Regions from separate parts of the Homo sapiens genome. Here all the other regions are linked to region 1. Evidence: fine-mapped QTL for protein levels in blood plasma. Region 1 holds a variant in brackets. A gene starts in each other region. All regions are shown on their reverse strands.

Region 1 (8,180 bases):
TGGGAAGACGCCCGTTGCCAGGTGGACCATGGTCTAGCAGTAGCAAAAAGTATCAAGGAACAACACCCGCTACTTAGCAGACCGGGAAAGGGAGTGTCCCTTTCCCTGGAGGAGTTTAGAGAAGACTCTGCTCTTCCACCTCTTGTGGAGGGCCTGACATCCGGCAGGCCTGCCCGCAGTTATCTGGAGGCCTAACCGTCTCCCTGTGATGCTGTGCTTCAGTGGTCACGCTCCTAGTCCGCCTTCATGTTCCATCCTGTACACCTGGCTCTGCCTTCTAGATAGCAGTAGTAAATTAGTGAAAGTACTAAAAGTCTCTGATATGCAGAAGTAATGGCATAAGCTGTCTTTCTCTCTGTCTCCTCTCTCTCTCTGCCTCGGCTGCCAGGCAGGGAAGGGCACCCTGTCCAGTGGACACGTGATCCACGTGACCTTACCTATCATTGGAGATGACTCACACTCTTTACCCTGCCCCTTTTGCTTTGTATCCAATAAATAACAATGCAGCCAGACATTCGGGGCCACTACCGGTCTCCGAGCATTGGTAGTAGTGGTCTCCCGGGCCCAGCTGCCTTTTCTTTTATCTCTTTGTCTTGTGTGTGTATTTCTACACTCTCTCATTGCTGCACACAGGGAGGGAGAGACCCACGGACCCTGTGGGGCTGGTCCCTACAAATACCAATGTCAAGATTTTAGACAATAATAAACCAAGTTTAGCAAAGTGCCACACTGGATTTAATTCAGAATTGCAAAGCAGTTTCAATGCCAGAGAATCAAGAGTGTAATTCATATCAATAGATTAAAGGAGCAAAACCCACGTGACCATCTCAATGGTTGCAGAACAGGAACACAGTAAATGACGCGACAGCCATTTATAACGAGTTTTTAGCAAACTAGGAATTAAGGTATTTCCTTACTCTGATAAGGGGATTTGGAGCCAGGCATGGACCCATCTTGAAACTACATTCTGGGTCAGGCAAATGTAGATGTATTGGAGGGAAAGACATCCCCATGGGTTCCCAAGAGGTGAAGTCATCATAGTGAACTAAGGGGCCAGTGAGGGTCTGGAAAAGGCCACTGCCATCACCTGGCTACAGAGACTGAAGAGGCGGGGGGGGGTCTCGTCCTGAGCAGAGACAGGACAACTGGGTGGGCCAGTGAGGGCTGCAGGTGGGGGAAGCTGAGAACCCAGCAATATTTTACTGCCACTGGATGTCTGCACAAGGAACCTATGCCAGCCAGGGAGGTTGAGAGTGAGGCTCAGTGGGGACTGGCATACTGGCTGAGTGGATGCAGTCATTGAGCAACGCATGTCATGCATGGCGTGGGCCATCACTCTGCTGGGTGAAAGTTTCAGGAGCGAATGAGACCCAGCCCTAGCTCTCAAGGAACCCATAGTCTCATAGGTAGTGGTCCTGCAAAGTGGCCAGGGAAAGGATCGGGGTGCAGGGTGCTGAAGTCACATGGAAAGTTGTGAACGTTGCCGGTACCAAAATGGAGTCACTTATGTCAAACTAAAACAGTTGGAGGTGATGAAGCAGCCCTCACGCACACATTCCTGCAACAGGACTTACCACAAGACATTTCTACAAACAGACCAATAACAGGACTCACTGCAAGACCATCCTCAACGGTTGCAGTATTCCAGATAAGCTGCTATTCCCAAATCCATTTATTTTAGAGAGTCTATCTCTGGATTTCTTCATAGGTTGACTGTGTCATGTAGGATTCAGTATAGTGA[A/G]CAAAGATTGGGGAAAGGCAGACCCCAGGCAGAAGATCAGAGGCAAGGGGGACAGTCATGCATTTGTAAGGTCTAAAAAGTTCAGTCTGCTTTTGTGATACCTGACGAATTTTCATATGTTGTGTTTTCATTCAGTTCAAAATACTTGCTAATTTCCCTTTGATTTATTCTTTGGCTAATGAGTTATTTAAAGGTATGTCATTTAGTTTCCAAATATTTGGGAATTTACCAGAGATCTTTCTGTTACTGATTTCTAGTTGAATTTCATTGTGGTCAGAGAACATACTTTGTATAACTTGAGTCCTTGGCTGGGGCGTGGTGGCTCACACCTGTAATCCCGATACTGGGAGGCTGAGGCAGGAGGATCATTTGAGCCCAGGAGATTGAGGTCAGCCTGGGCAATGCAGCGAGACCCTGTCTCTACAAAAAAATTTAAAAAATCACCCTGGGGCGGTTGCCCACGCCTATGCCTATAGTCCCAGCTACTCAGAAAGCTGAGGTGGGAGGATCACTTGAGCCCAGGAGGTTGAGGCTGCAGTGAGCCATGTTCCTGCCACTGCACTCCAGCCTGGGCAACAGAGTGAGACCGTGTATCAAAAAACAACAAAAAACCACTTGAATCTTTTTGAAGTTAACAGGGTTTGTTTCATAGCCCAGACTGTGGTCTCTCCTGGTAAATGTTCTGTGTGTGCTCGAGAAGAATGTTTTCTGCTCTTGTTGAGTCAAGTGTTTTAATGTCAGGTCCAGTGGAGTTCAAGTTCTGTATCCTTGCCAATTTTCTTTTCTTTTTTCTTTCTTTCTTTCTTTTTTTTTTCTTGAGACAGAGTTTTGCTCTTGTTGCCCAGGCTGGAGTGCAATGGCGCGGTCTTGGCTCACTGCAACCTCTGTCTCCTGGGTTCAAGCAGTTCTCCTGTCAGCCTCCTGAGTAGCTGAGATTACAGGCATGCGCCACCATGCCCGGCTAATTTTGTATTTTTAATAGAGATGGGGTTTCTCCATGTTGGTCAGGCTGGTCTCGAACTCCCGACCTCAGGTGATCTGCCTTCCTCGGCCTCCCAAAGTGCTGGGATTACAGGCGTGAGCCACTGCACCTGGTGCCAATTTTCTATCTATTCATTCTGTCAATTATTGCACTTCATCAAAAATTAAAAATTAGGAAAACAGATAAAAAGGCTCACAGTGGGAGAAAATATTTGTAAAACATACAGTATAATAAAGGACTTGTGGCCGGGCGTGGTGCCTCACTCCTGTAATCCCAGCACTTTGGGAGGCCGAGGCAGGTGGATCACTTGAGCTCAGGAGTTCAAGACCAGCCCGACCAAGATGGTGAAATCCATCTCTACTAAAAATATAAAAATTAGCCGGGCGTGGTGGCAGGTGCCTGTAATCCCAGCTACTTGGGAGGCTGAGACAGGAGAATCACTTGAACCTGGGAAACGGAGGTTGCAGTGAGCCGAGCTGTCGCCACTGCACTCCAGCCTGGAAGACAGAGCAAGACTCCATCTCAAAAAATAGTAAATAAATAAATAAATAAAATGGCATAACCATTTTGAAGGTTCGTTTTTGCATAAAGATGTCCAGTGTTCCAGGACCAGTTGCTGAAAAGACTGTCTTCGTAGAATTGCCCTTGTACCTTCATCTGAAATCAATTGGCCATAAATCTGTGTAGGTCTATTTCTAAACTGTGTGTTCTGTTCCCCTGAACCTTTCGCCAGCGCCACACCGTCTTAATCACTGCAGCTCTATAGTAAGTGTTGAAATCGGGTAGCATGAGTCTTCCAACTTTGTTCTTTTTGAAATTGTTTTATTTCACATTTACTACATATAGTCATTACTTAATCTGCATTTGCTCTTAAAAAATGTAGCTCTTCTGGTTTTTAGGAAGGCTTGATTTTTTTTGGGTCTAGTTGCTACTTACTGTTCATACCCTTAAATAATATCTTTAGTCCCCTCAACCTTTAAAAGAGTTCTCATAGTTCCCTACTATGAAATAATTTGTAAACCTTTCCCCTCTCTCCCTTCTCTCTCTTTTCTACCACCCATGGTTTTTTTTGTTTTTTTTTTTGAGACAGGCCTCGCTCTGTCACCCAGGCTGGAGTGGAATGGCGCCATCTCAGCTCACTGCAACCTCTACCTCCCAGGTTCAGGCGATTCTCCTGCTCCAGCCTCCCTAGTAGCTGGGATTACAGATGCGCGCCACCAAGCCTGGCTAATTTTTGTATTTTTAGTAGAGATGGATTTCACCATGTTGGCCAGGCTGGTCTCGAACTCCTGACCTCAGGTGATCCACCTGCCTCGGCCTCCCAAAGTGCTGGGATTACAGGTGTGAGCCACCATGCCCGGCCCACCCATTTTTTGAATGAATACTATTATATTTCTTAGTATTTGCCTCTGTCCTCTTTAATATGCTAAACTTCTCAGTTTGTCAGCATTAAGTGATGTCTTTAGAATCCAACTATAATATGAAGGAATCAGCAGGGCGATTCTATTTTCCATCCTCTCTCTGCTTTCTTGTCTCATACTGTTATAGCTGCCTTTGTAAAATTGTTTTTTTACACATTCTGTTACCTTTGTGTATGAGTTTGCTAGGGCTGCCATTAACAAAGCACCGCAGAGCAGCTTAGGTGAGAGGAATTCATTGTTCACAGCTCTGGAGGGCAGGGGTCCAGTCCAGACATCAGCAGGGTTGGTTTCTTCTGAGGACCCTGAGTGAAGGCTGTTCCTGGGTGCTGTCCTTGGCCTGCAAACAGCATCCTCTCATCTTCCCCCTGTGCCTGTCTGTGGGTCCTGATTGCCTCTTCTTATAATAAGGACACCAGTCACATTGGATTAGAGCCCACCTTAGTGACCTCATCTTAACTAATAACATTTGCAGTGACACCATTTCCAAACAAGGTCACGTTCTGTGGTGCTTGGGGTTAAGACATCAGTGTGTGGATTTGGCAGGGAACACACCGTACGTACCCATCACAACTTGCTGCTGTTTTTATCTCGGTCCCTGTCCTCTAGTTGAATATGTGAGTGCTCACTCCCTGTTCCTCTTACTATCTGTGATCATCTCTCAGTTAACTAAAATTCACTCTAGTACAGCGGTACTTTTGACCAACATTTTTTGCCCCAGTGACTGGTTTCTTGGAAGACAATTTTTCCATGGACAGTAGGGGTGGTGGGAGGGATGGTTTGGGGATGAAACTGTGCCACTTCAGATCATCAGGCATTAGATTTTCATTAGGAGTGAGCAACCTAGATCCCTCGCATGCGCAGTTCACAGTAGGGTTTGCACTTCTATGAAGATCTAATGCCACCGCTGATCTGACAGGAGGCAAAGCTCAGCAGTAATGCTCCGCCTCAATTCGTTTGTTTTAGCAAAGTTGTCTGGACTTCTACCTTGGAGTCTGTCCTGTCTTGGCTCTGCCCTGCCAGCCAAGGACCTGCCTGCTGCTGCCTCCCCACCGCTGCTTCCCCTGCTGCTGCCTCCCCCGCCACCGCCTCTCCTGCCTGCTTGCTCTGCTGCTGTTGTGCCTCTTCACGTCCCTGTTTCTTCCTGGCTGCACTTTCCACAGCATCTCTAGACTTGTGTCTGTGGCCTTTGCTTCCAGTCCTTCCTAAGTTCCACCAGCACCTGTCCACCTGTTCTTCCTGGGGCCGCAGAGTTCCCCATGGCCATTTCCGCTGCAGCCACTCCCCTGGCCACTTCCCCAGCTGCATCATGGGGCTGCCCGCTGGCTTGCCACTTTCACTTGGCTTTGTGGCAGTGGTTTTCTCTGTGTTTTCTTCATCTGCAGGGAAGTCTTGCTGTTCCCTTTTTGTTTGTTTGTTTTTGAGACAGGGTCTTGCTTTGTTGCCTGGGCTGGAGTGCAGTGACATAGTCACAACTCACTGCAGTCTTGACCTCCTGGGCTTAAGCGATCCTCCCGCCTCAGCCTCCCAAAGTGCTGGGATTCAGGAGTGAGCACTGCACTGGCCACCCGCTCCTTTTAGGTTTCTTTTTTCCCTCTGGTATCTTTGGGTGGATATTGATACTCATATTTGGATGAATTGGGTTTCCTGGATTGGGAGGGTGGGGCTGGCAGAGCCCAGAGTATAACTTTTCTGGTTTTGAGCCTGCCCCTCTCCTGACGTGCAGTAGCCTCTAGTATGGGCTGCCTCTGTGGCAGGGCAGGCTGAGTGCCGGAGCCCAGTAGGGCCAGGAGCGCCTCCACCACCATCCACAAGATCCCCTCTTATCTGGAAGTGGAGTGTCCACCCAGCACCCATGCCCCACTTCCGTGTGTGTTTCCGCAGCTCCACTCCCTGCTGGTGTTCAGCCCCTTCCCAGCAGTCCCATTCAGGCTAGGGCCTTCTCCTTCTGGGGTGTGACCCTGAGGGTTTCCTGTTCCCACCTCCTCCCGGCTTTCTCCACGCTCCCGCTGCCCCCCGACACCTGTTCACCCTCGGGACTCCATGCATAGTCTGCTTGTCTTTAAAATATAATAATTATTTTTTGGACACAGGGTCTCCCTGCGTTGCCCAGGCTGGAGTGCAGTGGCTCTTCACAGGTGCAATTATACTGCACTGCGGCCACAAACTCCTGGCCTCAAGCGATCCTCCCACCTCAGCCTCCCAAGTAGCTGAGACCACAAGTGCATGCTATTAAGCCTGGCTTAAAAAACAACGTATTTATTGAAAATTTGAGGTTCAGTAAGGCCACCAGATCAGGAGATAATTGCCATTGAAAGGATAGTTTACGACAGTTTCCAGGAGAAGGGGTACCCCAAGCCACACAGGGCCACACGGGGAAGTGCTGGAGTCGGTCAGGAGGCAGGAGAGGGCAGAACTGTGGGTGAAGCCCGTAATGTGGTTTCCATGGGAGGGGGTGGGCGAGGCGGTAGGGAGGCTTAGGCTTGGCTCATTTGAATGATTTCAGCGCGCTCTGGGGTGTAACACCTGCATGCTCAGTGAGCTCCTCGAGGAATCCCCCGTATCGCTGCAGTAATTCCCGTATACGCCTTGTGAGGGCTGCACACAGGCTGTAGTGGCCCTTCTGCAGCTCAGCGTGGATGGCTTCTCCAGGGTCAGCCAGAAGCAGTGGGGTCAGAGCGAAAACCAGGGCTTCCTGGCTGTGACGCATGTGCCTTCAGCCACTGAGCTGCCCTGCTTACCCCACAGGAATTGGGAAGACATCAGGGAGGGCTTACTGGGGAAGGTGAGCATCAACCTTGACCCTGAACGATGGGAAAATTAGGATGGCAGAAAAGGGCATTCAAGAAAGGAAGAATTGGCCAGGCACAGTGGCTCACGCCTGTAATCCCAACACTTGGGGAGGCCGAGGCGGGCGGATCACCTGAGGTCAGGAGTTCAAGACCAGCCTGGCTAACATGGTGAAACCCCATCTCTACTGAAAATACAAAAAATTAGCCAGGTGTGGTGGCAGGCGCCTAATCCCTGCTGCTTGGGAGACTGAGGCAGGAGAATCACTTGAACCAGGGAGGCGGAAGTTGCAGTGAGCTGAGATCCCACCATTGCACTCCAGCCTGGGCGACAGAGTGAAACTCCATCTCAAAAAAAAAAAAAAAAAAAAGATACAAAAATTAGCCAGATGCGGTGGCACATGCCTGTAGTTCCAGCTACTTGGGAGGCTGAGACAGGAGAATCGCTTGAACCAGGACGGGGAGGTTGCAGTGAGCCTAGATCATGCCACTGCACTCCAGCCTGGGTGACAGAGTGAGACTCCAACCCCCTCCCCCCGCAAAAAAGGAAGAATTATATATATGATTATTATATATTATATACATATTACATGTACTATATAGAGAGATGATACATAGATATAGATCTATAAACAGATGGGATCTTGCTATGTTGGTCTTGAACTCCTGGCCTCAAGCAATTCTCCTGTCTCGGCCTCCCAAAGTGCTGGGATTACCAGCGTGAGCCACTGCTCCTGGTCAAGAGAGGAAGAATTTTTTGTTTTCTCAAACAAAGGAAGGGAAGGTTCTGACACGTGGGAAGTTTCCCCAGGGACGGAGTCCCTGTAAGGACAACGGGGCCGCGCAGAGCCTGGACGCTCAGGCCAAGGACTGACATGTCCCCAGAGCAGAAGGGCTGTGTCTGAGTCCCCGGTGAGGGTCGTGAGGACAGAAGACTCAAGCCCAGCAATACAGGCTGGGGCAAAAACACAGACGGGGTGGTCAACTGCGGGACAGAGATCAGCAGGAACTGTGGCTGTGCTGGCAGGATCCACTAACTACATAAAGTCATCAGTAAACATGGACAGTACATTTTTTATTTTTTTGAAATGGACTCTTGTTCTGTCACCCAGAATGGAGTGCAGTGGTGCGATCTCAGCTCACTGCAACCTCTGTCTCCCAGGTGCAAGCGATGCTCCTGCCTCAGCCTCCTGAGTGGCTATTACAGGTGCACACCACCACACCCGGCTAATTTTTATATTTTTAGTAGA
Region 2 (8,180 bases), not on the chromosome of region 1:
AAAGGATACCCCAGTAAGCAAACAGATCTAGATGAAGCCACTTTGAGGAAGGAGACCGTAGATCAGGCACACCCCACAGCTGTGCATGATGTTCAGTCTCTTTCTGTGCCCACAGCTTGTTGCCTCTGTGAGGAGGTATAAGCACTCCCCTTCCCCGCTTCCATGACCCTTTCCAGTGACCATTCAGTGGACACCTTCCTGCCCTCCCCCTACAGTCCCAGTCAATTGTCACCTCCTTCCTCACCAGAAGGGCAGGTCCTCCCCTCACCACCATGTGCCCCCTCCCCAACCACCCGTGCCTCAGTAAGGCCTTGACTTCCTTCTGCAGCCATGAGACCAGGAAGGGCAGGGTGGCAGGATGAGTCCAGAGGTCAGGGCCCAAGGCCTGGCCTTTCTGGCTTGCCCCCGAGACTCTGGATGGCGCAGACAGAATATGAGCTTTGGGGTCAGGCTGTGACCACTTCTGGGATCTGGCACTTCTTGTGTGACCCTGAGCAAGTGACCTAACCCTGCTGAGCCTCCACTTCCACAGCTGGACAACCCAGCTCCCAGGCTTGTGGGGACACCTAGGTGGCCATAAACTATTGTGTCTGGTACCAGGCAGGCACTCACTGGCTGCTTCTGTAAGAAGGGTGGCAAGGGAAGGGGCGGAATTGCCATTCACTCACTCAATCCTGGGGGCTGGGTTTGCTGAGCTTTTGCCTTGGGCTGCAGGCGTGTTGTAGCCAGAGGCTGGAAGGTGGGAGAAGGGGAGGGAGGACAGCAGGGTCCTAGAGGAAAGGGAAAGGCTGCTCTCAGGGGTGGCACCGCTCTGAACCCCTTTTCCTTCCTTGGGAGCAGCTGGCAGTTTTCCTACCCCCCACCTCAGCACAGAGCACTGCCATCTTTCGCCTCGGCCAACCAGGAGCCACGTGGCGGGTTCCAGCAGATCCCTGGTCTTCTACTCCTGCAGCCCCCTGGCCTCGCGCCTAGCTCAGAGCCTCAAACCCACCTGCCTCTCAGCCTGCTTCTTCCCTGCCACCCTTCACACTACTCCAGTTTTGTCTCAAAAGTCTGTGTTGGATCCCATCCCTCTCTGCCTTAGAACAGTCACTGGCTCTCCATTGCCTAAAAGCCAAAGTTCAAACTTTTTAGTATGCCTTTCGAGGCCTCTTAAACTCAGGCTTCAGGCCGGGTGTGGTGGCTCACACTTGTAATCTCAGCATTTTGGGAGGCCAAGGCTGGTGGATCACGTGAGGTCAGGAGTTCGAGACCAGCCTGGCCAACACGGTGAAACCCCCTCTCTACTAAAAATACAAAATTAGCTGGGTATGGTGGAGCATGCCTGTAATCCCAGCTACTTGGGAGGCTGAGGCAGGAGAATTGCTTGAACCCGGGAGGGAGAGGTTGCGGTGATTGCAGTGAGCCAAGATTGCGCCACTGCACTCCAGCCTGGGCAACAACAGCAAAACTTCGTCTCTAAAAAAAAAAAAAAGCAAAGAACAAAACTCAGGCTTTGAGGCTTTGAACCACCTTGTCAGCTTCGCCTCTTTCTCTGTTCGGTGCTCCAGCCATAGAGTCATCCTCTATTCCCGACTAAACCAGCCTCCTGCCCACCTCCGTGCCTTGGACATGCTGTTCCTCTGTGTGCGATGCCTTTCCTTTCCATCTCTGCCTAAAGCACTTCTTTCTGTCCTTCAGCACAAGCTCAAGGTCAACTCCTCTGTAATGTCTTCCCTGGAAGCAGCGAATCTCTTTTTCCTCTGTGCACTCACAGTCCCCTGTGCGTGCCTCCAGTGGCGCTAATGCTCACTTACACTGCAATTTCTTGTGTACTGGGTCTCCCTGCTAGGCTGAGACTCCTTAAAGGCAAGATGCCTATCCTCTTGGGAGGCCAAGGCAGGCAGCTCACAAGGTCAGGAGATCGAGACCATCCTGGCTAACACGTGAAACCCTGTCTCTACTAAAAATACAAAAAATTAGCCGAGATCGCGCCACTGCACTCCAGCCTGGGCGACAGAGCGAGACTCCGTCTCAAAAAAAAAAAAAAAAAAAAAAAAAATTCCTGTCCTCTGTGCCCAGCACAGTGGGCAGAAGCCTGATGCAACCAACTCCCCAGGAGCTACTCCGGTCCCCACTTCCCCAAGTCCATCTGTCACTTCCCCAGTCCTTGCTGACTGTGTGCCATCCTGGACTCTCCCTCTTTCTCCACCACTTTCTCTTCTACAGATTGAGTATCCCCTATCCAAAAATGCTTGGGAACAGAAGTGTTTCAGATTTCAGAATATTTGCATTATATCTGCCGATTCAGCATCCCTAATCCAGGAATCTGAAATCCAAAATGCCCCAGTGAGCATTTCCTTTGTGTGTGTGATGCTGGCACACAAAAAGTTTCGGACTTTGGAGTATTTTGCATTTTTGGATTAGGGATACTCAATCTGTAACACTAGGTCAGTTTATTCTTGGATTTTTCTAAGTAGATGATCAAATCTTTTGCAAATACAGAGTATTTATCTTTTCCTTTCCAACATTTATACTTCTTCTTCTTTTTTTTTTTTTTTTTTTTTTTGAGACTGAGTCTGGCTCTGTTGACCAGGCTGGAGTGCAGTGGCACGATCTTGGCTCACTGCAACCTCCGCCTCCCGGGTTGAAGCAATTCTCTGCCTCAGCCTCCTGAGTAGCTGGGATTACAGGCACCTGCCACTATGCCCGGCTAATTTTTATATTTTTAGTAGAGACGGGGTTTCACCATTTTGGCCAGGCTGGTCTTGAACTCCTGACCTCGTGATCCACCCGCCTTGACCTCCCAAAGTGCTGGGATTACAGGCGTGAGCCACCATGCCGGGACTTATACTTCTTAATCTTGCATATTTCATTGCCTAGGGCCTTCAGGCAAAGATGAATAAAAGAAAATGATAGTAGGCTGGCTGGGCACAGTGGCTTCTGCCAGTAATCTCAGCACTTTGAGAGGCTGAGGCAGGCAGATGGCTTGAGTCCAGAAGTTTGAGACCAGACAGGCCAATATGGCGAAACCACATCTTAAAAAAAAAACAAAAAACCAAAATGTAGCCAGGCATAGTGACTTGTGCCTGTGGTCCCAGCTACTCTGGAGGCTGAGGTAGGAGGATTACTTGAGCCTGGGAGGCAGAGGTTGTAATGAGCCAAGATTGTGTCACTGCACTCCCGTCTGGATGACAGAGTGAGACCCCATCTCAGAAAAATGAATGAATGAATGAATGAATGAATGAATAAAAATAAATAAATAAAAAGAAAAGAAATGATAGTGGCTACATTTGTCTTTTTCTGACTTTCTTAGAAATTCTTCTCATGGTTCACCATACTCAATGGTGTGCTGGAGATGGCTCGCACTGACTCACAAGAGCTCACTGTTAACTTTTCAGGAGTTGGTGAGATCGTGTTAAACTGTCGATGGCTGGAAATTGGCCATGGGAATTGGACCACAGAAATGGACACCACAGAAATTGGAAAACACCACAAAATGACAGCATCCCCAGCCTGTTAAACATTTACCAGCACATCACTGTCGTCAGTCTTCTTCATTTTCAACATCCCAACTGCCATCAGAGAGAGGCCAATAGAGTCCGATATAGGACGATAATATAGCAATACACATGTCATACACAAATAAAGAATTACAAATGAGGGTAAACCTAAAACACAAGCGAACTTGATCATAACTGGTAGAAATGACATGTGAACACTGATAAGAATTGGAAGAGATAAGAGAATCTTGTAAATAATGAAGAACAGATTCAATGTGGTTCGATGCTGCTGCTATTTGGCAAGTTTAACTTTATTTCCTCAAATTAAAGATCCATGGATAAAGGAATAAAAAAAAAATAGGGGCTATGGTGGTAGGGATGGGCCTGGGATTGGGATAGGTCCCAGCTATGGGGCTAGGAGAGGAATAAAGCAGACATCAAAGCTGGAAACGACTTGTGTTTGAATCCCAGTTCCATCACTTCCTGCTGTGAGATCTTGGGCAAATCACTTAGTCTCTTGGAGCCTCAGTCCCTCATCCGTGAAATGGGGATACAAAGATGTACCTCGCCCACACTGGCCAGCAGACCAAGGCTCCCACTCCCCTGGGCCCTCTCTGGCTTCTTTCTCCTTAGCTCAGCAGGTCCACTTGGGGTTCTGGGCTCCCAGAGAGGTGCTTTATCCCCTACCCAGGCCCCATAGCTCCAGCCCCGGCCCCCTAGTGTCCCTGCATTTAACGATCCCTCCTTCAGGCATCCTACCCAGAGGCTGGTTCCCAGGCACTCTAGCACCTGTGGCTGGACTTCAATATCTGGGGAGGTGGAGGCCAGGAGGGGAGAGTTGAGGGCACAAGCAGGGCGAGGCCAGCATGTCCAGGGTGATGCTGTGGGCTGGGTCTGGAATGCAGCAATGGTTGGCCCAGCCTCGGGAGGCCTCAGGAATATCTCTGACACCAGGCGAGGAGTCTTCTTTATCCCCTGATATGTCTATCTTGTACCCAGCCTATGGAAATCTCCCTCCAGCACACCTGGGCAGAAAGGAAAGGCGCCGAGCCCAGCCCTGGACAGATCTGGGTCCGGTCCTGCTCTGACATCTACTACTGGTGTGACCTCGGGCAGCAAGAGTGAGACAATGGCCAAGACTCAGGCGGCTCCTTCTGTGCCCCAAGCCTTGCTCGGTGCTTGACCTGCATGATCTCCCTGAGGACTCAGTGCCCATAATGTTGGTACCAGGATTATGCCCCACCACCCCTCCCTCTTCCCTCTGCAGCTCCTGTCCCCAGCCTGGGGAAGGAGAGATATCTGTTACCTGGAAAGACGAACAGAGAGATCAGTAAAGACTCATCGGGGCCCCGTTTTTCGACCCCACACCAGTACTCCCCAGCGTCTTGCAGGGTGAGGTTCCACAGGGTCACAATGAGCGAGAGCTCCTGGCGGCTGTCACGGATGGACACCCTGCCCTTCATTGTCTCCTGGCCTTCTTCTTCTGCATAGATGGTGCCAGAGCAGCGAGAGAAGAGGATCCCACCCTTCCTGCACCAGTACTTCCGGTGGTCCCTCAGCTCTTCCCTGTAGGTGCACTGCAGGGACACAGTGTCCCCTTCGAACCCGCTGATTTCCTCTGGGCCCTCCAGGGCTTCATAACCTAAAATCAGAGCAGGAGTGGAGGTTGGAAAAACCAGGCTCCATGTACCAAGGTCAAGGCCAGAGCTTCCATTTTAGGAGGAAGAAGGAAGGCTTTTCTCAGTCATCCCTTCTGGGGACAGCCTTGGAAGAGCCATTACTAACCTCCCACGCTGGGGGAACTTGGGGCAGGGCTGTTGCTGTTTCCCTAACCCTGGCCCATTGAGGAATTGGGGTGCAGGGGTGGCGTTCTAGATTCAGATAGAATCTGACAGCCAGATAGCCAGCAGGGTTTCTGAGTGTTTTGTTTTGTTTTGTTTGTTTGTTTGTTTGTTTTTGAGATGGAGTCTCACTTTGCCGCCCAGGCTGGAGTGCAGTGGCCCGATGTCTGCTCACTGAAACTTCTGCCTCCCGGGTTCAGGTGATTCTCCTGCCTCAGCCTCCTGAGTACCTGGGACTACAGCCACGTGCTGCCATGCCCGGCTAATTTTTTGTATTTTTAGTAGAGACGGGGTTTCACCGTGTTAGCCAGGATGGTCTTGATCTCCTGACCTTGTGATCCGTCCGCCTCAGCCTCCCAAAGAGCTTGGATTACAGGCGTGAGCCACCGTGCCTGGTTTTGTTTTGTTTTTAGACAGGATCTCACTCTGTTGCCCAGGCTGGAGGGCAATGGTGCTCATGGCTCACTGTAGCCTTGACCTCTGGGGCTCAAGCGATCCTCCCACCTTAGCCTCCCACTAGCTAGGACTACAAGTGTGCACCACCATGCCTGGCTAATTTTGTTTGTTTGTTTGTTTGTTTGTTTGTAGAGATGGGGTCTCACTATTGCCAACTGAACAACTGACATCAGTTGTAGGATTTATCCTGATTTTAAGTGTTAGAAGGTAAAGAAAAAGAAAGCAAAAGAATTGATGAAACGTGATAATTCTTCATCTTTCAGGGTTGTGGGGAGAGGCATAGCCGAAATTCAACAAATATTTGCTGAGTTTAACAGGGCAACCAGATGGGGTGTCTTGTCCGCCTCCAGGCTTGGCACAGGGTAGAAAAATTAAGATTAGAGAGGCAAAGCAACTCTCACAGCCACATTGCCATGAGGGGAAACCCACAGGTCTGGAGAAAACCTGGCTCTAGGTTCCAGAAACAGCAAGTGCGGCCCCGGCGCCACCCCCACCTCCCCCCACCCCCAGCCCGCCCCGCTCCCCTAGGGCTGAGGAGGCTGAGGATAGGTGGGGTGGGGCTATCAGTCAGTCAAGAGGTCCTTTCCCTGCAGACCACAAGGGTGAGCCCCACATCCCTCCCGAGACCCTCTCCCCATCTCACCTGGGAGCAGCAGGCAACCCCATAGCAGGACCAGAAGCCGCATTCTGGGCGCTGGACACCGTGGGAGCAGACGCTGGGAACTGTGAGCTCCTCTTCAGTCACACGGGTCTTTAACTTTCTCTAGTCGCGTGAAACCAGGCCAAGGAAGCGAGGGGAGGGGCGTGTGGGTCATCCCTCCGCAGGCCCAGCCGGGGAGGCGCCTCTGCCTTCCCTTTTCTGAGCGCCCACGCGTGCCTACCCCAGGGCTCACCTTCCAGGACTGAAAACCCACACCAGAGTTTCTCCTAAACTCGTGCCCCTTCAAGGGGGCCTTAACCTGTGGTCCGTGCGCCCTAAGGGGTCTGTAAGTCGAATTCGCATGGGAAAAAGTTACATATTGACTTTCATCAACTTCTAATATTTAGCTTTTCCTCTTATTCAGAGTGTACTGTTAGCAGTACCTGCAACTTTGTTACCAATTACAATCACAGACACTGGCACATCAAGTTGTGGATATCTCGAAACGTCGTGTATACCCCTCACTGCTTGGAAAACAATGAGTTCCTAGACCTGCCCCTAGAGCTGGTTATTTACAATAATGAAACGGCTATTATTATATTACACATTTATAAAGAGTTTTAAGAATCATCTCACCAGTATTAGTTTTCTTTCCAGCATATATATTTTATTTATATATTTACCCGCCATTATACTGAGAGAGGGGTCCATAAACTTCACCAGACTGCCATGTGGTCAGTGGGACAGAAAGAAGCTTGCCCCTGGGGCAAGGCCCCTGGCCCCTCCTCCGCCCTTGCCTTTTGGAGGACGCAGTACTGCCCTTGGCCACGGGGCGGCGGTGCAGACGGGGCTGAGCAAAGCTGTAGGGCTGAGCTGGACCGGATTCCCTGGTGCCTTGGGCCTACAGCGCTGCAAGATAGGTCTCCTCCACGCCTGCGGAGTTGTTTTGGCATTTGAAAAAGTGAATTGGTGGTTTCTCCATCGCAGACTTGAATCCTCCTTGAAAGGACCAAAACAAACATGTACACTACTGGGAGCTCTGACACACTGGCTTCAAAAATGACTTTTTTTTTGGTTTGGTTGCAAAGTTCATACAGGTTGTAAGCAAAATTTTACACAATACAGAACGTAAAAAGGAAAGAAAGAAAAAAGGGAGTGCTTCTTGTAATTCCCCTTCTGCTTTAGAAAAGCACCATTAATATTTTGGCATATATCCTTCCAAATGTTCAGTTGGAATTTTACTGACTTGTCAGGTTAATATCTGAAGCATTAACTCAGTGGTTCTGGGAGGGAAGATTGTGTGTGTGTGAGTCTAGTAACGTGGGGAGAAGTGTTTTAATTTCACAATGACTGCGAAGCACTGCTGCCATTTAGTGGGCAGGGCCAGCTGTTCACGGTGGGGAAAACTGTTACCATGATCTCAGCCCCTGACTCTCTTTTACATGTACAGACTACAAAAGGTGATCTGTTTTTGCAGTTTTAAAAAAACACAGATTAAAAAATATTTATGGCCCAGCATGGTGGCTCACGCCTGTCATCCCAGCACTTTGGGAGGCTGAGGCGGGTGGATCACCTGAAGTCGGGAGTTTGAGACCAGCCTGACCAACATGGAGAAACCCAGTCTCTACTAAAAATATAAAATTAGCCAGGCATGGTGGTGTATGCCTGTAATCCCAGCTACTCAGGGAGGCTGAGGCAGGAGAATCGCTTGAACCCAGAAGGTGGAGGTTGTGGTGAGCTGAGATCACACCATTGCACTCC
Region 3 (8,180 bases), not on the chromosome of region 1:
TATTCATTACCCAATTTGTTCATGTAGTATACACTTATTAAATGCCTAATGTGTCTTAAGCATTTTTCTAGATGCTGGGATACAGTAGAGAATAAAACAAGTCCTTAAGGAGATGACTCTCTTGATTGGGGGAAGAAGGAGACATACAAATAAACAAATAACTGTAAAGTGTGACAAATGGTGAAAAGTACAATAAAAAAGAAACAAATGAAAGGTAAAGTGGGAAAGAGTGCTGAGGTGAGATAGGTTTGCTATTTTATTAAAGAGTGGTCAGGCAGGGCCTCCCACAGGAGGTGGCATTTTAGCAGAAATATGATAGAGTGAGGGAATGAAGGAAGAGTAGGGGAGGTAGAGGCAACACCAGATAGAAAGGTCCTGTGACAGGAAAGCCTTGATGTCTTAGGGCAGTGGTCCTAAACTTGAGCATCAGAGTCCCTTGGAAGGCTTGGTCAACACCCGTTGATGAGCCCCCACCGTTGGATTTCTGGTCCATTAAGTCTGGGGTGAGGCCTGAGAATGTTCATTCCTAACAAGTTTCCTGGTGATGCCGATGCTGCTGGCTTGGGGACAACACATCGAAAATCACTTCCTTAGAGGAGTAGCTGTGCAGTCAGGGTGGCTGGAAAGCTCAAGTAGGAAGGGGAAGAGTAGTCAGGGGCAGATTGACTCACACTCTGATGTGCATAGAAACCACTTGGGTCTGTCAAAATGAAGATGCTAATTCTGTAGGTCTGGGGTGGATCCTCAAATGCTGCATTTCTAAGAGAAAGCTCTTGAGTGACACAGATCACTTTGGCCTGTGGACCACACTTTGGGAATCAAGGCTCTAGGGCCTTTACTTTATGTTGAAGGAGAAGTCATTAGATGGTTGGAGCAGAGAAATGACATGATCTGAAGGATATTAAAAGGAGAGCTCTATGTTGTGCAGAATAGTCTTTAGGGAGCAAAGGCAGAAAGGGAAGCACAGTTATGAGGCCTGTCAAAGGACCAGCCCAGACATGAGGTGGCTGACCAAGGTAGGGGCAGTAAAAGTGCTGAAAAGTCTCAACTGTAGTATGATTTGAAAGTAGATCTAGGCCAGGCGTGGTGGCTCATGCCTGTAATCTCAGCACTTTGGGAGGCTAAGGTGGGCGGATCACAAGGTCTTGAGTTCAAGACCAGCCTAGCCAACATAGAGAAACCCCATCTCTACTAAAAATAGAAAAACTAGCCTGGCATGGTGGTGGGCACCTATAATCCCAGCTACTCGGGAGGCTGAGGCAGGAGACTCGCTTGAACCCAGGAGGCGGAGGTTGCAGTGAGCCGAGATGGCACCACTGCACTCGAGCCTGGGTGACATAGCAACACTCCATCTCAGGAGAAAAGAAAAGAAAAGAGAAAAAAGAAAAGTAGATCGAGTAGATCGAATAACATTTGCTGACAGATTGTGTGTCAGGTGTGAGAGAAAAGCAAGAGTTAGGGGCAACTCTAACATTCTGAGCCGAAAATCTAGAAGGAGTGAGTCACATTTACTGAAATGAAAAGGACTGAGAGGAGCAGGTCTTGGGATGGAGGATAAGAAACGTTTACTCAGCCTTGTGAGGCAAAAAGAAGATGGTAAAAAGGTGGCAATTTTCTCTATATGATTTTCCCAATTTATGGTGTTAGAATCTGGCCATATGGCTAACCCAATCAATCCTGGTGGTTTGGTTGAAATGGCCTAAAAAGAAGATTTACATGGTAATGAGATTTCTCCACTGGGGTCAAGGATCAGAGGTGGTGGTGGGCCTAAAGAGTACAAAATGGCAAAGAGGTAAATAATTAATTTTTATTAGATAAATAATGATGAGATTAGAAAAACTCTAATTCTAATCCCATTTCTGTTGTAAAATACAGCAGATTCTCTGAACTGTTTACACAATGGCTAACTCTAAAGAGAGATATTTTAGTGCCTGGCTCTGAAGTCTTGGGACCCATTTATGCATTCACCCATTTACCTTCCTAAACTATTTCTGCTCTGCCTATGCAGCCATTCTCCAGCTATTCCAATTAAATATCAACTAACTGGCTTCTCTGTGAGTGAGACAAAGCCAGAAAAATTGACCCTTAGTTATTGGTATGTTAGTTTTGTAGCCTTCAGATAGCACTGAGCTATTAAGGTATGGGCTACAAGATCTGGAAGTAAGCCCCATCACTGCTACCTATGATCTTGAGCAAGTCACTCTACCCATGAGAAGCCACCTGTCGCTTCCCAAAAAAATGAAAACAGCACTTACTCCACGACAAGACTGGACAAATAAATATGCAATTGCATATAAAAGCTTTTGTAAACTGAAGGTACTTATTATCATGAATAGCTCTGCTTCCACAAATCCTGACCTAAGACACTGGGAATGCAGAGGCTTCTCTCTCATTTCAGAAGCAGGACAACAGAGAGAAAACAGAGATGATGACTCAGCTTCTCTCTCCTCTCAGTAATGGATGAGACTGATGAATTTCTTCAAGAAATATATTTGTAAATGAGATGTCTAAGTGGAGATTGCTTTACACTCACCCCTAAGTCTCAACCGAGGAGTTGTTAGTGAATATGATGGGCCAGTGGAGGGGTTGGGTTTTGTTTCCCCACTAAATATAACCAGAGGCTTATTCTTATATTTTTCTTTAACAATCGGAATAATTATCTATTTGCTTTCCTTTTCCTCCAAATACAAATTGGAAAAATAAAATTTTTATAAAGAGAAACTTGTTACATATTTCTAGATCCATTGAGGACTTCCTAGCTCTCCTAGAAAGTCTGGTCTAACTATCTTCTCTTTCCGCATTTTTATCTTTCAGAAAATGCAATTTCTCACAAAGCACCAAAAAATATTTCTCCCCCAGAGAATCACAATACAGTATTAGGAAGGAAAGTGTTCAGTAATCCCACCACTGGGTTTCAAGTAATTTCAAGACTTTAATAACACAAAAATTGAACTCACCTAAATTGATTTCTGAAATATCCTTCTGTTCACCAAAATCTGCATCATGTACTGTTAAAAGTGAGAAAAAAAATTATTATTAGTCTTGCCGAAGGAAAAAAGTTCAAAAACACTCTCTGTGCATTTGAACTAATTCTTACCATTTTCTTCAGGAAGATACTTAATCTGAAAAAAATAAATATACAGAAAATGGATAATGTATACTAGAATTAATATTTCTAAATATCCAAAAAGCAGGACTCGACTTACCGGTACAGCTGCTATGTGGGCAAAAAGCAAGGTAAAAAAGAGAATGCAAGTGGATCTAATCCAAGCCATTGCTGCAAGTGAGCTGATTTTAGCACACACCTTGTCATAAATACCGTTTAGACTTTACCCTGACGGTCGTATTAGAAACTTTGACCCTTCCATATGTACCGTAGTGCCAATAAAGGTTGTCAAAGATAACATCATTGACTCTTTCGAGGACAAACACTAAGTTTACCTTAAATGCTTAAGCTCCAAAGACTGGGGAAAAGTTTGAAAAATTAATACGGAAATGAGCATATAAGAACTAATAACATTCCTATAGGGCAGCCATAGCCATTCATATCATAAAACAGGATAGACGATCCCCTTAACAATAAAAATAAAAATAATTTATAAAATTATTATTATTTAATTCTAATAAAATATAAATTCAAATTTTATGGAAATGTTATAAAGCAATTATTGAAGGACATAAAAATACCTGACTCTCTCTCTATATGTACATATGTATGAAATATTAATAGATTGTTTTAATATTAATCTATAAATTCATTGTCATTCTAGTAAAAAATCTAACAGGGTTTTCAGTGGAACTTGCCAAGCTGACAAATGGTTCAATTCGCATGAAAGAGTAAACATTGAAGAATAGATAAGAAAATTCTGAAAAGGCTGAATAAAGAGAAAAGAATTGCCTCAAAAGAATATCAGGAGCTTTGGTAAAGTTACAGTAATTAGAGTGTAATAGTTCCAAAAATAAAGATAAAATGAATCTATAGACTGGAATAGGTAATATCCAAATAGATGCAAGCATATGCAGGGCTTTTATGTATAAGAGGAACCAAAAAGGCAAGAGGGAAACTTGGGTCTCTTTCATAATAATGTGGGAATAATTGCATTTCCATATGAGGAAATACATTAAATGTACACCTGATACCATTGACAAAAATAAATTCTAGATAGATTAAAAATTTAAATATGAAAATATAAACTTCAAAAAAGAAAATATAGGAACATATTTTTAACCTTTAGGTCAAGAAAGATTGCTTAAACATGAAAAAAACATAGAAATTACAGAGGAAAAGAATAATACATTTGACTGTATCAAAATTTAAACTTCTTTATGACAAAAACATAACATGATTAAAAGACAAGCCACAGGTGAGAGATGATATGTATACTGCATATAATTGAATAAGAATAAGTATTCAGGATATGTAAAGAATTTCTACAAATCAATAAAAAGAACAGGAGATTATCTAAGGAAAAAATGAACAAAAAATATGAGTAGCAAATTCACAAAAGACCCAGATGGCCAATAAATATGTAAAAAGATTTTTAGCCTCGTAAGTAATCAGAAAAATTATAGGTTCAAATAGCAGTAAAATACCACCTCAAGCTAAGATTGGCATAAATTAAGAAGACTGACAATATCAAGTGTCAACAAGAAGGTAAGAAAATAGGAAATCTAGTAGGACATCAATTTGATGCTATCTAATGAAGTTGAAATGTGCACAGTTCATAAGATAGAAACTTCACTTCTAGGTCTATATGCTAAAGGAACTCACACATATGTGCACAAAATTCCACATAGCATATTCATTGAAGTTTTTTTGTTATGGTAAAGAATGGGGAAAATGTGTTTATACTAAAAGAAAAGATAAATTATGGAATATATTCAGCCATGCACAGGTAAATGTTTAATAATCGGCTCTTTTAAAAAAAGTAAAAACAAACAAGCAAACAAACAAAACCAAGCCTTTATTTGTAGTGTTTGTTGATTGCCATGGTCAATTTCAAGCTACCAACACCATGTCACTGAATGCAGTGTTGGGAAGAGATGTACACAGTGGGCTCCATCTGCGCCAGCACAATACTAAATATATGCACACACCCACCTATTCTTGCCTGCACCAGATATAAGAATCTTTGGCATTAGAGCAATCTTCAAGGTCTAGAGCCTGCATCTCTCTACCTCAGACTTACTACTGGGCAGGTGGGCTAGTCCTGCTGTCAAAAAAGCATTTCCTGTCACAAAAGACTTTTAGAAGGTGAACAGTAGAGCTTCTTGAGCTGTAAAATAGGAGGCATGTCAACTGGGGGCCTGCTTCTGATGGGCAGAAGCGTTCTATGGCTGATTTTTGTTTTACCTAAGCCACTGATGGTGAGGTGATAAAAGGCCATCTTCCACCGTCTCTAACCATTACAAACCACTAATATTATTTTTTAAACGAAACAAAACAAAACAAAAAGCCAAATTTGCCCAACAGCCGCAATGACTTAAGTGAGCAACTACAATCTAGACCATTTAAAAATTGGGCAATAATCAAATTTTAAAACTGGCCAACATCGTAAGAATAATTGGCTTTAAGTATCAGTGTGGAAAACATATGAGACTTTTATTTCTTAAATGTGTTGTTTAATTTTTCTCAAATTCTGAAGCAATTATGGTAAAACTGAATATTTGGTAAAACTGAATATTTGTTAATCTTGGAAACCAGGAAGTAGGAGTTTGTTATTTTATTTTCTAAAGAAAAAGGCAGTGCTGTTGCTTTGGTACACCTCTCTACTAAATCTCAGGTATCAGGATTTCAAACAGGGAATAGTGAGGCTGTTTAATTCTCTCCACCTTCTCTTGCTTCCAGCCAGATGTGTTTTTATCTTTCCCTGCCTTCTTAAACTTATCTGAATGATATACTACAACAATGGCTTTGGAATCAGATAAGCAGGAACTCCACCTCTACCATTGACTAGCTACAGTAATTTTAGTACCTGCTTTTTATGTGTAGAATGGATAGTGGTGCCTACTTCATGGGGCCAATGTAAAGATTCAATGAGATAACATATGTAAACCACAGCTACTAGAAACATAGGAAGCACTCAATAAACTGCTCCTTCTACCTGCTAGTTAGCAACTGCCTCCTAGCAAAACATGGGCACTAAAAACACAGCTCAGCCCACTCCTTGCTCAGTAGAATCTCCAGTGATGAGAACATAGGTCTTCAGCAGACACAACTTGCCCCCAATTATTTTATTGTCACAATCTTAATGGCAGATGTTAATTAGTTACCAGCTATTTGCAATCCTAGTCACTTCTTCATTGTGTCAGGGTATCAAATGAGTAAGGCTGGGGCCTTAAGTCCTTCATTTGAAGGGTTTATGGCTTTTCAGTTTAAAGAAGATTATGCACTCTGTGGTCAAGGTCCATGCTTTATTTCCTGTATTTGCCCCAGTGTTTGGAAACATAGTAGGTAATTAGTTCTCATTTTAACTGAAAAAAGTAAATAGAAATTTCTCTGAAGGTATCGGATGGGGTGACTTGCTTTGATCTCAGGAAGGGCATTTCATAAACTGACCAGTTGAGAAAGTGGTCTGAAGCTTAGAGGAAGAAAGCCATTGACAGGTAGAAAATGGAAAAACCCGCCCCCAGCTATTTCCACACACTCTCCAGCTTCATAAAAGCTCAGGCAAGGAGTTGGGCTAAGAGACTTGCAAAGTCCTCTCACCCCAAACCCTTCTCAAGGATGTTCTCTGCCCTCTTTCTACTCTATTGCAAGATGCTGATTCCTTCTGCTTCACTCACAGAGTTCTGCCTTCAACCAGCTGTCAGCTAACCTGAAACACAACAGTCCTTGTTCCTCCCAGGGCAATCAACATATTAACAGGGGCCCAAAGGTGTATAGAGCAAGAGTCGGCAAACTGTCTGTAAAGGGCAAAGAGATATATGTCAAGCATTGTGGGCCATATGAGCCCTGTTGTAGCTATGTAACTCTCCTGTTGTATGTAGCATAAAGTAGCTGTAGACAATAATGTAAAGGTGTGAACATGGCTGTGTTCCAATAAAACTTTATTCACAAAAACAAAGCAAAGGGTCATAGTTTGCTGACCCCTGGGTTTTAGAGAATAACCCTCAAGGTGGTGGAAATTGAGACGGTGATAATAATTATAACAGAAGCAGTAGCAGCAACCAACATGTACATAGTACTTACTGTGGGCCAGGCAGTATTCCAAGTATCTAAGGGTAATTATCCATTCAATCCTCACAACAATCCTACGAAGAAGCAACTATTATTATCTCCATTTTATATATTAAGAAACTGAGATGAAGAAAAATTAAGGAACCTTCTCAAGGTCATGCAGATCCTGAACAATGCTCCTAAATTCCACCTGAGAGGCAGTTCTTTACACCTATGTCTGGCCTTTGACAGCCCAGGAGTGAGGCCTCCACCATTATGCTGTAGCATGCAGACCCCTGGTTTCACAGGGTTCCATCTCTAACAGTTTACTAAGAAGAATTAACCCTGAGGGAAACAGTTCCCAAGCTATAGATTCCTTCAAAATCCTCTGGATGGTTTGTTGAGGTACAAATTTCTTGGCTTGGAATTTGGAAATCCTGACTCACGTCAAATGGTGAGTTCCAGAGATCTGCATTTTTAATAAGCACCCTTGTGACTCTGATGCAGGTAGTCTGTGGAACACACTTTGATGAACAGGACACTGTGGAATTTGCATCAGTCAGATGCTTCCACTCTCACTGTGGTTATCGAATAGCTTTCCTCTGATTCCCTTTGTATAAGAAAATCAAAAGATCATAGAACCTTCAGTTTCCTAATAGGGAATACATCAGATGTTAAGAATTCGAGAGATCATCAACACAGAAGTCCATTTCAGAAGGCCTCCAGGAAACAGCCCCTCTGCAGTGTGGTTTGAGGACCTGCATTTTTAACAAGCTTGGGGGTTATTTCTATATGGAAAATGTGAGACCTGCTGACCTGGGCAGGCAACTGTGTTTTGGAGTGTGTACAGACACCAATCCCAATTGGTGAGGCAAGGGGTACTTCTTACTCAGCTGGGCACTGAGGACCCTAATAAGCCACTCTTTAGGGCCAGGTGGGCATTCAATGGATTTGGTTCCAGCCTTTTCTCTTTTATAGAACCCAAAGAACACATTGTTATCTTTCTCTTATGACACAAGGA

Which allele goes with the higher level. Positions count from the first base shown, and alleles are read on the strand shown. Strength reflects both the effect of a copy and how common the allele is.
As copies of A replace G in region 1, the plasma level of the protein whose gene starts at base 6,506 in region 2 goes down (strong association).
For the plasma level of the protein whose gene starts at base 3,285 in region 3, allele G in region 1 goes with a higher level than allele A (strong association).

Evidence for each region. PIP is the chance, under the fine-mapping model, that this variant and not a neighbour inherited with it causes the effect. The UK Biobank Pharma Proteomics Project read protein levels with antibody pairs (Olink). The fine-mapping took linkage between variants from a reference panel, not from the people measured, so its PIPs are less certain.
Region 2: it holds the start of CD300LG, and the variant in region 1 is fine-mapped to the plasma level of the CD300LG protein (UK Biobank, PIP above 0.99).
Region 3: MEP1A starts here. The variant in region 1 is fine-mapped to the plasma level of the MEP1A protein (UK Biobank, PIP above 0.99).

The regions. Positions count from the first base shown.
Region 1 is chr9:133,321,320-133,329,499 of GRCh38, reverse strand. SURF6 (surfeit 6) reads left to right here. Exons shown (of 5, transcript NM_006753.6): 5 at 1-724. Among named protein-coding and RNA genes, the nearest start is that of SURF6, 11 kb to the left of the region's middle. The variant A/G (reference allele first, on the strand shown) is at 1,742.
Region 2 is chr17:43,845,502-43,853,681 of GRCh38, reverse strand. It overlaps CD300LG (CD300 molecule like family member g), which reads right to left and starts at 6,506. Exons shown (of 7, transcript NM_145273.4): 1 at 6,423-6,506; 2 at 4,789-5,124; 3 at 669-770. The coding sequence starts at 6,465. It overlaps LOC107984979 (a long non-coding RNA gene), which reads right to left. Exons shown (of 3, transcript XR_001753057.2): 3 at 7,207-7,418. LOC107985077 (a long non-coding RNA gene) reads left to right here. Exons shown (of 2, transcript XR_001752896.2): 2 at 3,381-3,932.
Region 3 is chr6:46,788,494-46,796,673 of GRCh38, reverse strand. It overlaps MEP1A (meprin A subunit alpha), which reads right to left and starts at 3,285. Exons shown (of 14, transcript NM_005588.3): 1 at 3,207-3,285; 2 at 3,098-3,122; 3 at 2,958-3,008. The coding sequence starts at 3,275.